Linked DNA regions of Homo sapiens: region 2 is linked to region 1. The links come from fine-mapping of genetic effects on gene expression. A gene starts in region 1. The other region holds a variant in brackets. All regions are shown on one strand. Distances are between the middles of the regions. Region 1 holds the start of UHRF1 (ubiquitin like with PHD and ring finger domains 1). Region 2 has its middle 11 kb from the start of PLIN3.

The links. PIP is the estimated chance that this variant, and not a neighbour inherited with it, causes the effect. A credible set is the group of variants that fine-mapping cannot tell apart.
Region 2: its variant is the best candidate, but not a certain one, in a credible set for the expression of UHRF1 in tibial nerve (GTEx, PIP 0.83).

What each region holds. Positions count from the first base shown.
Region 1 is chr19:4,907,235-4,911,602 of GRCh38, forward strand. UHRF1 (ubiquitin like with PHD and ring finger domains 1) reads left to right here and starts at 2,267. Exons shown (of 17, transcript NM_001048201.3): 1 at 2,267-2,421; 2 at 3,642-3,804. The coding sequence starts at 3,652. It also overlaps a transcript of ARRDC5 not described here. RefSeq lists an enhancer at 1,300-2,206 and silencers at 2,026-2,105, 2,606-3,125.
Region 2 is chr19:4,876,252-4,880,632 of GRCh38, forward strand. No RefSeq gene overlaps it. Among named protein-coding and RNA genes, the nearest start is that of PLIN3, 11 kb to the left of the region's middle. RefSeq lists enhancers at 1,300-2,183, 2,184-3,065 and a silencer at 2,478-2,657. The variant G/A (reference allele first, on the strand shown) is at 2,345.

The DNA of each region.
Region 1 (4,368 bases):
GAGTAGCTGGGATTATAGGCACACACCACCCTGCCCAGCTAATTTTTTTTTTTGAGACACAGTCTCGCTCTGTTGTCCAGGCTGAAGTGCAGTGGCACGATCTCTGCTCACTGGAACCTCCGCTTCCCAGGTTCAAGCAATTCTCTGCCTCAGCTTCCCGAGTAGCTGGGATTACAGGCGCCGGCCACCACACCTGGCTAATTTTTGTATTTTTAGTAGAGATGGGGTTTCACCATGTTGACCAGGCTAGTCTGGCGACTCCTGACCTCCAGTTATCTGCCTGCCTCGGCCTCCCAAAGTACTGGGATTACACGTGTGAGCCACCACGCCCGGCCCACACATTTATCATCTTACAGTTTGGGAGGTCAGAAGTCTGAAATAAATTTTAGGGGCAGGGCGGGTTCTAGGAGTCTTTCTTGCTTTTTCTAGCCACCAGAGGCTGCCCATCTTCCTTGCCTCTTGGCCTGATCTTTTTTTTTTTTTTTTTTTTTTTTTGAGACTGAGTTTTGCTTTTGTTGCCCAGGCTGGAGTGCAATGGCGCGATCTTGGCTCACCACAACCTCTGCCTCCTGGGTTCAAGCGATTCTCCTGCCTCAGCCTCCCGAGTAGCTGGGATTACAGACATGTGCCACCACGCCAGGCTAATTTTGTGTTTTTAGTAGAAACGGGGTTTCTCCATGTTAGTCAGGCTGGTCTCGAACTCCTGACCTCAGGTGATCTGCCTGCCTCGGCCTCCCAAAGTGCTGGGATTACAGGTGTGAGCCAACGCGCCCGGCCCTTGGCCTGATCATTGTAAAGCCTGCTTCCACTTTCCCATCTCCTTTGACTTTGACCTTTTGTATCCCTTTTTCACTTATTAGGACCTTTTAAGGACATTGTGCCCACCTGGATCACCCAGGAGACGCTCCCCAACTCAAAATCATTAACTGAATCACACCTGCAAAGTTGCAAAGTCCTTTTAGCTGTGTAAGGCACTGTATTCACAGATCCTGGGGGCGAGGACGTGGGGGTCTAGAGACGCATATCTTCGGGGGCCATGATCTGTCTCCTATATTAGGGACATAGCAGAAGTCCCACTGACCAGATAGAGGAGACTTAATAGAGTGACGAAGAAACTGTAAAAAGCTAAGTGGGAACTCAACATTTTTCTGCTCACAGCTCTCAAGGGAAAGACCAAAGTCCTCCCCGGTGGCCTTCAAGGTATTATATATCACCCCTCTGACCTCAACTCCCCCTCCCCTTTGCTCAGTGGGCCCCAACCACACCAGCCCCTTCCTGCTCCCTGGACACCTCTAAGCCTTTTCCGGCCTCTGGGTTTGACTTTCCCTCCTAGACCCATCTGTCCTTGGAGTCTCATCTCCGATTCCAGCTCAAATGTCATCTTCTCTGAGAGGCCCACCGCAGTGGCCCCAGTGAGAGAGTATCCTCTCTCCCCGCCTCCCACCACATGGCTGCTGGTCACTCTCCTATAAGGAATCATCTGAAATTATCTGCTTTAGTTATTCATTTCTTGCCTGTCTCCCCCAGATAGGAATTTTCCCTCCCTGAGACCACCAACTGGGTCTGCCATGTACACCGCTGGGTTCTGCAGCTCTGAGCAACCTGTCCGGCTGCTTTGTAGGTGCCCAGCACAGGTCACTCCTGTGCCCGCCAGGACTGGTCAGAGTGGAACAGACAGGGCGGAGGGGGCAGGGCAGCCCTGCCCGCCTGGACAGCCTGGAGAAGGCGGGAAAACGAGGCGGGAAAAGACAGCAAACAAGCCCTGCGGGTGGGTAGAGTGGGGAGCCCTGGCAGGCCCTGACGCCAGGCAGTGGGGCTTGGGGCGATCGGGCGAGCCATCAGGGTGCAGGTGGTCTCCTAGGGGCCCCCCACATTCCCTCGCAGTATTTACACATTGATTCCGGCCTTCTTAGACCTACTGGTCAATGCGTGCGAGTGGGGGGCTGCGAACGGACTTGGACTTAAGAGTTCAGGGGGTCTGTACCCTGGGGGTCCCCAAGGCTCCTGGGGTGTCCACGTGCGGGGGGTGACCAGGCCCTGCCACGCAGCCCCTTTGCACGCTGGGCGCGCCCAGCAGAGCGCGCAGGGCTGGGCGGAGCCGTGGCCCACTAGGCGGAGGCGCCGTGGACAGAGGCGGGGGCGCCCCCCACCCTCTTTCTCGCTTCCCGCCACTGCGTCGGCCAATCAGGAGGCAGGCGCCCGCCCCCGGCACGGCCTCCTGCGGCCCCGCAACTCCCAAATGCCGAGTTTTCGCGGGAAAAAAATCAGAGCAGCTGGCAGCGCGGCGGGCAGCGTTTGCCGAGCGGGCGCTCCGGGTCGCACGCAAGTCCGCGCGGGGTCCGGGCCACGCACGCGGTTTCATCGCCATCCCCAGCCGGGCCACGCGCGCAGGCAGACAAGCTGTTCGCGGCGACCGGAGAGGTGAGCGGGCGGGCCGGGTCGGGGTGCCAGCCCGGGCCGGGCGCACGGGGCTCGGGAACTTTGCAAAACTTTCCCGCGCGGCCAGCCCGGGCGCACGCATGTCCCGCACTCTGTCCCGGGATCCAGGGCCTCCCCTTCCACCTAACCCTCGGGAATCGTTCCCCGGCACACATCCGGCTGGAGCCGGGACCAGCGCTGCGTCCCCGGAGCCCGGCGGGGGGTCGAGCGCGCCGGGTGGGGGAGGGCCTGGCGAGCCGCCGGGGAGGATGTCAGGCTCCGCGCCTGCGCGCGGGGCGCCCCGCGATTCAATTGTCGCGCCCGAGCCCGATTTCGCGCGCCCTGAGTTCCCCGGGAGCATCTGGGCCAATGGGGAGCGAGCGGGGCGGGGCGGCCGGGTGCTGCGGAGCCAATAAGAGGCGGCTCAAGTGAAGGGGGGCGGGACTTGACGAGCGGGGGCCCCCTCTGTAGTCCCGGCGGCGGGGGTGGGCGTGGGCTCGCTGGCGCGACCCGCGCGGGCCAGTGGGAGTGCGGGAGGGACGCCGAGGGTCCAGGGTTTGGAGGGGCGCGAGCTGCCGGGGGTTGGAGGTCGAGGTGAGTCGCGGGGCGCGCGCGCTCGCGGGTGGCCGGGACGGGGCGGCCGGTTACCATGGCCACCGCGGGGCGGGCCCGGTCGCGCACGCGCGCGGGGGGGGCCGGCAAGGAGGGGGGGCGTGGGCACCGAGGGGTCCCGGGGTCCGCGGATCTCGGGTGGGGTTTTTCCCTCTCAGTGGCACTTGGTTGAGTTCCCCCGGGACTTCTGAAGTTCCGGCCCGCGCTGGACTTCTGGGATTCCCTCTTCCGTAAATAGGAATCCGAGGAATGAATGAATCAATGAATGAATGAATAAACGAACCAACTCGGCCACTTGGCCCGGGCCTCCTTTCTCCTCTGGTCGTGGGGAAGGAGGGATGGGTTGGACCTTCTGCTTTTCTTTCAATTCCCTCTTTTCATTCTCCTTCCTCCTCAATCTTCAACACTTGGCTAGTCGTTAATGCCTTAAGTGCTTAATTTGTTGTGTCTGGTCCTGGCCAGGGTCTGGCTGTACAGGAGGACTGGAAGGGCATCCTGGGAGTTTCCTGGTGTCCACAGGCCGGACAAAAGCAACCCCGACTCCTTAGAGCATGGCATGGCTCAGAGGTGCTGGTAAAACTGATGGGGGTTTTTGCTGTCCCTCCCCTCAGCGCCGACACCATGTGGATCCAGGTTCGGACCATGGACGGGAGGCAGACCCACACGGTGGACTCGCTGTCCAGGCTGACCAAGGTGGAGGAGCTGAGGCGGAAGATCCAGGAGCTGTTCCACGTGGAGCCAGGCCTGCAGAGGCTGTTCTACAGGGGCAAACAGGTACACCCGCCGCCAGCACCTTTGTTCTATGCCTGGTCCAGGCCTCGCGCCTCTGCAGCCACCAGCCGATACTTTCTCCCTCCCACCTCCCCCCCCAACAACCTCGTCCGGTCCCACTTCATCTCTCCCGGAAGGAGAAGTCCACAGAAACCTCAAATGCCTGCGAGAGGAAGGAACAAAGGGAGGACTCACAGATTGACACGCTGGGCTGGCGGCTGGCCCTCGAATCTATAGGGTCTGGGCTTTTAAACTTCTTTTTTCAAAGCTCCGCCTCAAAATAATGGCTAGAGAAAGAAGTTTTGGAGGTGGCCGATGGAAGGCTGAGGAATTTTCGAGAAAGGGCCCAGGACCATCTGGTAGCTAGGACGGAGGGGACCAGGTTTTCTTTTTTAAACATCCACCACCAATTGCTCTCAGCCTGTACCGGTTAAGCATCAGACCCTGCGAGTGTTTGTTTCTAAAAATTTGGATTAGCTTATTCAGAGTCTGGAGATGGCGCTTGCTAATCAGGAATTTCCGCCACCCTGAGCCTGCTGTGCTGCGGCTGCTGCTGACCTGGGGCGT
Region 2 (4,381 bases), 31 kb before region 1:
CAGACGCCCACCATGCCCGGCTAATTTTTTTTTGTATTTTTAGTAGAGATGGGGTTTCACCGTGTTAGCCAGGATGGTCTCGATCTCCTGACCTCATGATCTGCCTGCCTCGGCCTCCCAAAGTGTTGGGATTACAGGTGTGAGCCACTGCGCCCGGCCTTTGTTTTTCTTTTGAGACAGGGTCTTGCTCTGCTGCTCAGGCTGGAGTGCAGTGGTACAATCAGGGCTCACTGCAGCCTCGACATCCTGGACCTAAGCGATCCTCTTACCTCAGCCTCCCAAGTAGCTGGGAGTACAGGTGCATGCCACCACATCGGGCTAATTTTTGTATTTTTCATACAGGTGGGGGTCCCACCATGTTGCCCAGGCTGGTCTTAAACTCCTGGGCTCAAGTAATCCTCCCACCTTGGCCTCCCAAAGTGCTGGGATTACTAGTGTGAGCCACCACGCCTGGCCATGTGAATAATTTTTAGCGTAAGTATGTTCCAAATTATTTTGAGACATACTTATGCTAAACATTTTTCATTTAATGGAGTTCAGTGGCTCACGCCTATAATCCCGGTGCTTTCGGAGACAGAGGCAGGAAGATTGCTTGAGCCCAGGAGGTCAGGGCTGCCGTGAACTATGATGGCACCACTGTACTCCAGCCTGGGTGACAGAGCAAGACCTTGTCTCAAAATAATAATAATAATAATAATAATTCATTTTGGCCGGGCACAGTGGCTCACACCTGTAATCTCAGCATTTTGGGAGGCTGAGGTGGGCAGATCACTTGAGGTCAGGAGTTGGAGACCAGCCTTGCCAACATGGTGAAACCCCGTCTCTACTAAAAATACAAAAATCAGCTGGGTGTGGTGGCGTACGTTTGTAATCCCGGCTACTTCGGAGGCTGAGGCAGGAGAATCCCTTGAACCTGGGAGGCAGAGGTTCCTGTCAGCCAAGATCGCACCACCGCACTCCAGCCTGGGTGACAGAGGGAGAATCTGTCTCAAAAAATAATAATAATGGCCGGGTGCGACGGCTCACACCTGTCATCCCAGTACTTTGGGAGGCCGAGGGGGTGGAGTGGATCACCTGAGGTCAGGAGTTTGAGACCAGCCTGGCCAACATGGTGAAACCCCGTCTCTACTAAAAATACAAAAAATTAGCCGGATGTGGTGACATGTGCCTGTAATCTCTGCTGCTCAGGAAACTGAGGCAGGAGACTCACTTGAACCCAGGAGGCGGAGGTTGCAGTGAGCCAAGATCACGCCATTGCACTCCATCCTGGGCAACAAAAGCAAAACTCCGTCTCAAAATAAAAACAAAAACAAATACTAATAATAACAACAACAATAATTCGTTTAACTGCCTGTCTTGTAATTAACCTGGCAACTCAGCCAGACGTTGTCCACGTTGCCCCCCGCCACATTGTGGCTCCAGCGACCGGGTGGACACCTGACCAGCTGTGGCCCAACGGTGAGAAGGCAGAGGATTTTGTCTGGCAATTATTTGGGCTCGCTGCAGGAAGCCAGGGGTCTTTTAACATGCAGGCCCTGGCCTGTCCCCACCCCCAGGCCCTCATGGCGCCAGCTGCCCGCTGCCCCCTGCAAGGCGCTGGCGGGCGTGGGGGAGGGGAGCAGCTCTGAGACCCACTGTCCCCTCTCCTAGGCCAGGAGTGTCCTACTGGCTCGCATGCCCATCCGTGGAATGCCCGAGGGGACCCCGGGCCAGGCCTCCACCTGGCCATTGTCTCCTGCACCCTCCGTCCCTGGTGGCCCGTCCGGCTCTGAGCCAGACATTTACGACTTCTTGGGCCTCCCACAAGTCCTGCAGGCAGGCAGATTCCTTGTCCATGTCCGGGAAGGATGGAGGCCTGGGGCAGCTGCCTGGGAATCCGATCCCACGGGCCCCTGCAACTCCATTCCTTGGGGCCGCAGCCACCCCCACAGCCAATCCCTCCCTGGAGAACCGTGTCCAGGATGGCCAGGCCTGGCGGCTCTGGGCACGGCCCTCCCAGTGCCAGCTGCCAGGATGTGCCAGCCGCATTGGCGGGGAGAGAACAGGCCGTTCTTGGCTCTCCCGGCTGCCTCTTTGTTCCCTGGGCGGAGGTGGGGGGCTGTTGTCCTGGCAACCACCCCCTTTTCCCCAACACAGTCACACGAGGTGAAAACTGGGGGCGCCTCAGGCCTGGGGGTTCAGGTCAGGGAGGGTCCCCGGTCACCTAAGGTGGCCGAGGATCTCCCTCCTCCCCGCCAGCCCGGCTTCCTTGGAGTTCATATTTCCCGGACGACGAGGGAGGCCGGGTCACCCCCCGCACTTTTGGGGATTGGAATGTCGGAGGTGGTGGCAACAGGGGGTGGAC[G/A]TTCCCAGCGGGGCAGGCACCGTGGTGGTGGCAGCTGCTAGTCCCCTGCCTGTCCCACGTCCCCCAAGTGGGAGGCCGCAGCTGGTGTGGGTGACTTTGGTTCCCGGGGCGGGGGAGGGTTATTTTGGGAGTAGGGACCAGGGAGAATGAGAGGCCCCTCCACGGGGGCAGGAAGTGGGGCGGCCCCAGCTGCATTCTCCCGTTGGCCCACCTGGCGTGGCGGGTACTGCTGCCGCTGCACAGGAAGTGTCCCCAACGCCCGCCTGTGTGGTCCACTGAGTCTAGGGCCTGGAAATGGGAGGCAGCTGGCAAGGAGGGGGCAGGGACCCGCTGGGGGTGCTGTACAGCAGATCAGAATCTTCCAGAAGAGTCCCGCTGGGGTAATGGTGGTGCCTATGGAGTGAGTGGTGACTTTGGTTCAGGCCATTTATATGCATTGGCTGGTTTAATCCAGTGTGTTCCGGAGGAAGATGCTAGGAATAAATCCCCCTTTTACACATGGGGAAACTGAGGCTCAGAAACAGAAGCGACTGGCCCAAAGTCATTCAGCAAATAAACAGCCGAGGCCAGGCGCGGTGGCTCAGACGCCTGTAATCCCAGCACTTCAGGAGGCCAAGGCGGGTGAATCACCTGAGGTCAGGAGTGTGAGACCAGCCTGGACCACACGGTGAAACCCTGTCTCTACTAAAAATATAAAAATCAGCCAGGTGTGGTGGCGGGTGCCTGTAATCCCAGCACTTCAGGAGGCTGAGGCCGGTGAATCACCTGAGGTCAGGGGTGTGAGACCAGCCTGGACAACACGGTGAAACCATGTATCTACTAAAAATACAAAAATCAGCCAGGTGTGGTGGCGGGTGCCTGTAATCCCAGCTACTTGGGAGGCCGAGGCATGAGAATTGCTTGAACCCAGGGCAGGGGTGGAGGTTGCGGTGAGCCAAGATGGCGCCACTGCATTCCAGCCTTGGCAAGACAGCAAGACTCTGTCCCAAAACAACAACAATAACAACAACAACACCAACAACAAAACAGCAGAGGCCGGGCGCCATGGCTCATGCTTATAATCCCAGCACTTTGGGAAGCTGAGGTGGGCAGATCGTTTGAGCCCAGGAGCTTGAGGTTGCAGTGAGCTATGATCGCGCCACTGCACTCCAGCCTGAGACTGGAGCGTGACTCCAACTCAAAACAAAATAATAATAATAATAATAATTAATAAACATCAGAAGTGGGATTCTCATGCATAGCATTTACTATCAGATATATTAACTCCACAGAGGCCTCCAAGTATATACTGTACAGTGTAGCTCTCAACCAGGGGTGAGTCTGTCCTTCAGGGCCCATGGGGTGATGTCTGGGGACATTTGTGGTTGTCATGACTGGGGGTTGCTCCTGATATGGAGGGGGTGGGGGCCGGGGATGCTGCTCAGCACTCTTCAGTACCCAGGATGGCCTTGCCGCAGAGAAGGAACCCACCCCTCATGTACAGTTATGCGCGGTGGCTCACGCCTGTAATCCCAGCACTTTGGGAGGCCGAGGCAGGCAGATCACTTGAGGTCAGGAGTTTGAGACCAGCCTGGCCAATATGGCGAAACCCTGTCTCTACTAAAAATATAAAAATTAGCCAGCCGTGGTGGCACGCGCCTGTAATCCCAGCCACTCAGGAGACCGAGCCAGGAGAATCGCTTGAACCTGGGAGATGGAGGTTGCAGTGAGCCGAGATCACACAACTGCACTCCACCCTTGTCGACAGAGTGAGACTCTGTCTCAAAAATACATACATACTATACATACATACATACATACATACATACATACATACATACATACATTTCCCATCCTGGGGTCGTTCATATCAGCCTAACTGTCAGAGTTTAGGCAAGCAGTGAGTATTCACAGTGGTTCACATCACCGGTTTGGTTGAACTGGTTTTGAGTCCTGGCTCTGCAGTGAGTTTGCTGTGTGACCTTGGGCAAATCAATGAACCTCTCTGATCCTCAGTTCCTGGGCATTGGTAGTGGTATCTTCCTCAGGGTTGCTGTC